Linked DNA regions of Homo sapiens: region 1 is linked to region 2. Evidence: fine-mapped expression QTL. Tissue or cell type: tibial artery. Region 2 holds a variant in brackets; the other region holds the start of a gene. All regions are shown on one strand. Distances are from middle to middle.

Region 1 (2,691 bases), 120 kb before region 2:
ATAATTTCAAAGGAATTGCTGAACGCAGTGATGATACAAGTATGCACAAGGTGGTTCTGTTGGAGTAGAGAACTGGGCAGAATCAAAACCAATAATACCTCATAATTGTATAGTGCTTTACAATTTATACATTTCATTCACCTACATCATCTCACTTATCCTTACAAAGCCCTATATAAAATATTAAAATATTACAACCTCATTTGTAAAAATTAATAAAACGAGGCTCTAAGGGGTGAGAAAATAGAATTTCAGAATCAGAAATAACCTCTGTTAGTGTCCCCCAAACTTCAGTCATTTGCAAATCACCTTTATTAGTTTTGCCATATCTGACTACCACCCATACTATTGTTTACCTAGTATTTTTTATTACGTTGACACACTTGAACTTTTTTTATTCTAAGAAATATTTTTGAAATTATGGGTCTGTGTCATACTTTTAGAAGTTAACATTATAATAAAATAAACTTAAAAAAATTGGTGCCATGCTTTAGAACTTTCTTCAGCACAATACATGAAAATCTTAACACATCTGATGACCGATTAATCCTTCAGTTTCTACTTGCACATCTGCAGTAATCTTAGGCAAGTTCCTTAATTTCGCCATACCTGCTTCGTCATCTTTAAAATGGGAACCCACAGGATTCTTGTGTGGATAAATGAAATCATATATTTAAAGCTATTAGCAGTTCCTGACAGGTACTCGGCTTTCGATAAGTGTTAGCTATCATTGTTAGCTTTAGGGCTGCTTTTTCTTCTTCTTCTCATATTCTCATAATTGTAAAGTCCTTTTAAAATTGTGTCCCCAAAGACACTTCTGTTCCTTTCCCCAATTTAACTAAACTGCCAAAAGTTGAAAAGAGGACTTTAAAGTGACAGGTATACTCGTTATTGTCGTATTTCCCGTCATCACTGCTTTAGAGTACGGAGGTAAAATAATAGGCGGGCGTCAAAATCCTTCGATTTTAGAGCTTTTGCAGGGGATACCAAGACTGAGGTAGAACAGCCCTAAACCTGGAGGGCCGCCTATTGGGCAACCTAGAGCACACCTTTCCTCAGGCCAAACCCAGCGCGCCCGGGGTAGTCTCGAGTTCTCAGGTTACCCCTCAGTGACAGCCCTTTCTTGAGTTCCTTCTCCTTCGCGTCAGTCTCTCGTTCTCCCACCCCGCCCCTCTAGACCAGGTGAGGTTTCCTCCCTCACACTCCTAGGGGACATCGCGTCAATCTGGCTTATATATTGTCTCCTCTGAGTTTGATCTTTCGCTCAACGCCTAGTCACCTGTGACTTAGGTTTCCGTCTCGCCGAAGAGTAGCTACTGCCTAGTGCAAGCACCTTTGTAAGACCGGCGATCGCAGTGGTCGCTCTGAGCAGTAATATTTACCGGCTTAACTGAAGCACCCGCTCTTTTGCTTGCTGGGAGATGTAGTCCCTGGGTTGGCCACTTTAGTTCATCGTTGCTACCGCCGGCGTCCAGAAGACTACAGTTCCCAGCAGGCCCAGGGAAAGACAGGATACCCTGGGTCGGCTCCTCCACGTGACCACCCACTATGGCTTCCTAGTGTCAGGGCCAGCTGTGTAGTGGCTCGGTGTGATTTGTTAGCTCTTTGAGGCAGGGTACCCTCCTCAGGATTTCGATATGCAAAAAATCAAATCTCTCATGACCCGACAGGTAAGTCGCGGCGGCTGAAGCAAAGGCTTCCTTCATCTCGGAAGTGAGAGGAGCCGAGATGTTCTGTCCCCAACCAGTGGCGGGCGGGGATCTAAGTTATGGGTGGTGGCAGGTGTCAGGGGGACTGGGAAGCCGGGGCATACCCTAGAAAACTCACCTGGGCCGCCTGGGTTGGAGCACTGCTCCAGCGGGTACCAGCCTCCCAGAAATATTCGTTTAAAAATAAGTCATTGAAGGAATCAGGGTATCTTTGTCTCCCCTCCTCCTCTTTTTGCCGTCTTTCCAGAACAGCCCGAGCTTCCTTGCAAGGTCTTCCGCATCCAGGCTGTCTGTCATATGCGAGCTGATAGCCTGGGTAGGGTGGTGTGGTCTGTGCAGTAGAGGTGACCTGGAAAGACTGAAAACGGATGATTTGAAGACAGAATTAGTAGCTTTTGGATTTTGGGCAAGTCCCCAAACTTTGTAGCTTACGTTTCTGGATGTGAAAATAATTATTTTTGTTCATTTTACTTCACAGTTCTGTTATGAGGGTCATCGATAAGCTAATATATGTGAAAACTCTTTGTGAAATTCTGCTTTAAAAAATTTATTTTTGTCATGGCAAAATACTGATCTTTTCTTTTTTTTCCCCAGAATGGAAATTCATGAATAAGAGCTTTGGCTATTTTGTAACCTGTCTCATAAATGTTAGGGACCTCGTAATAATGCCTCAGCTTCATTTAAGAAGTGCAGAAATTTTCTTTTATGTACTTATTGATTATGACTTTGTTTTAGCTGCCTTTATTTACTTCAGCTTTAATATTTCACTAGAATTGGTCATTTTATTATTTTAATATGAAAGATAGTTAAGATTAGAGTTTTAAATCAACATGGCTTTTAGAAGTTTGGAGAATGTGGAAGGTAATCGTTTAGTGAAAGGTATATTTGTGAGTTTTTTTCTTGTTGATTACAAAAATAACTCAAATTCCACATTCTTATTTGAGAATTCACAATTTGAGAGATATATAAACAGGATACAAAT
Region 2 (2,691 bases):
TGAGAAGCGAACAGCTATTTCAAAGACCCTGTACAGTGCTCTAGAATTGCACATCAGTTGAATATTCACACTATCATTTGTCTGATTTTTCTTTTGTTCTCATTTGTTATACAAAATAATGTATTAGAAAGTGGGAAGATGACAGTGACAAGCTGACAACAGTCGTGGCACTCTGTATTGAAACCAGCAGTGCTATAAATTATAAAAAGGCTGTGTCAGCAATCACGAATGAAGAGTATTTTAAATAAATTTGTTTAAGTCGAAATGTGAATAATATATGTAATACTTCTGTATAAAATACTCTTTTTTAAAAAAAAAAAAAAAAGCTTGGTCATTTTAAATAAAATAAGCTTTTATTTTCTTGCAACTTTCCTTAAGGTAAGTACCTCATTCCCACAGTTGAATTTTCCATGTTCTGTATGATTGATTGAAGAAATGAAACATTGACTTAATGAGCAATAAAGTGTTGTATTGTTAGGGTTTGTATATTTGTCTTTATTACTTAGTCCACCTTAAAACACACTGTTTCAGTAGTGTAGAATATCAGAATAGGTCTATAAGCTTTTTATCATGAAAAATATATATATACTTTCTATGCTTACATGCTTACACATTTCTTTATGTTTTCAGAGTGTTCATGGGAGAATTATTTCATTTGTTTCTTTTGCATTGCATTGAATATTGAACAGTTTTATAAAACTAAGATTACTTTGAAGTATTCAAAGCTTAGTTTTTATAAAGTAACTCTTGGCAGCCAGATTAACTGGAATACCAGTTTAACTTTCTTACAGACAATTATGTTGATTGAATACAGAGATCCGTGGTCTGTAGAACAACAAAGAGACTTGAACTCATTGGATCTCTTTGCAAATGAGAAAACTGAGGCCCGCATAGGTAAAATGACAGAGCACAAACACAACCCAGTCTTTCTGACTCAAGGCTTATGTTCTCTATTTCCTATAACCCTCTCATTTCTGGGGAATCTGTCCAAATATAGGTTAGAGAAAACTTCAAATACCTGACAGTTTTTTGTTTCTAATTATCCTATAATGTATTTTTTTTTATTGTTTTGCATCTTAGATATGCCAATGTCAAGAAATGCAGTAATGAGGGTCGTGCCCTGATGCAA[T/C]TGGATTTTCAACAGTTTTTAATGAAACTTGAAAAACTAACAGATATTAGACCCATTCCTGATAAAGAATTTGTAGAAACTTATATTAAAGCTTATTACCTAACTGAGAATGACATGGAACGGTGGATCAAAGAGCACAGGGTGAGAGCTGGAAAATAGTTAATTAAGTTTTTATTCCTTTTTCTTTGTGCTGTTCTTGTTGGGTGTGTTATTTAATTCAAAATCATGAGAGTGAAATATAAAGAAACATTTGCTTTTTTAATACAAACTACTTAGGTCAATTCTTTGCCTTATTCAGATTAAGGGCACCGTATCTAAGCAGTGCCCTTTGACTCATCAAATCTTTTTCAGCCCTTTGTGAACTGTTACTGTAATGATCTAGAAATACAGCCAAAGCCAAGACATTAGCTATATTTTTCCTGCAACTGTGTTATAGGAAAAGGCTGAAGTTGATAAATACTGAGACAGATTGAATACAGAAACAATGAAATGATTCATAAGCCATAATCGATTATGTAACTTAAACCTTCTCATACAAACCTTCTCGTACTCCTCAACGATGAAATGGTAACATCCTACACACTGACACGTATTAGTGATGAGTGAAGACATTAATATTTAAATGGCTAAACTTAACTTACATCTTACATTAGATTTTACCTTTAATATAGATTTGATTATTTTTCTTTTGTATGACTATATAGATAACGAAAAATACTATTGTTACGTAGGATGCCGAATTTTTGACACAGTTCAACTCAGTGAGCTTGGTATGGGAAGCTTTTCTGTATATGGCATGTGTTAAAATTATCACCAAATCCTCATTGCTTTGATAACTCTAGGATTTACATTTTCTTAACCTATGAATGTCATGGGTAAAAGCTAAGTCAAGTTTTATTTCATTTGGGTAAGAAAATAATTATTTGTATATACCTGCTCAGACTCATCCTTTCTGGCCTTAACACTGTAAAGAGATAAAATGCATTAGCCTAGAACATTCACATTGGCGTGAATCTTGTGTGAATGTCCCCACTCTTACTCAGTTTCGGATCTTTAGAAGCAAAGTAGGAATGTATGTGTTATTTTTAATGAGTTCGACCAGTAAAGCCAGATTGAGAAAAACTTCACCACGTTTAGCCCCACTGACATTTGATAACCAAAATGTTAAACCTAGATGCAGATAGACTGCTTAATGTTGCTAGAATCCATTTAGTAAAGTAAGCTGTAAACACTTCTGGGTTGGTACTGAGGAAAGGGTTTTGGGAAAGAATACAAAGTAGCCAAGGAGGAAAGGCACAGCTCTATTCGATGCAAGAATGATGCCCGTTTTTTGAATTTCCTCTTTTAATATAGTAGACTGATTTTTTTTTAACTTAGTACTTTGAAAGAGCTTTAACTGATTGATATTTGTAATTCAGTGACATTTCCCCAGCAGCAGCAGGGACTCTTTTCTGTCTTTGAAGGAAACTTCCCACAATGATGAGTCCAGCGATCACTGACGATGGATCCTCACTGAATGCTGAGTGGTTAAATGAGATTACTTACCAGGCGGGGACAGGTGC

The links. PIP is the estimated chance that this variant, and not a neighbour inherited with it, causes the effect.
Region 1: VPS50 starts here. The variant in region 2 is fine-mapped to the expression of VPS50 in tibial artery (GTEx, PIP above 0.99).

The regions. Positions count from the first base shown.
Region 1 is chr7:93,230,831-93,233,521 of GRCh38, forward strand. VPS50 (VPS50 subunit of EARP/GARPII complex) reads left to right here and starts at 1,536. Exons shown (of 28, transcript NM_017667.4): 1 at 1,536-1,670. The coding sequence starts at 1,638. It also overlaps a transcript of HEPACAM2 not described here. RefSeq lists enhancers at 1,237-1,306, 1,447-1,616, 1,707-1,756, 1,997-2,056.
Region 2 is chr7:93,354,811-93,357,501 of GRCh38, forward strand. It overlaps VPS50 (VPS50 subunit of EARP/GARPII complex), which reads left to right. Exons shown (of 28, transcript NM_017667.4): 27 at 1,081-1,270. Among named protein-coding and RNA genes, the nearest start is that of VPS50, 120 kb to the left of the region's middle. The variant T/C (reference allele first, on the strand shown) is at 1,130.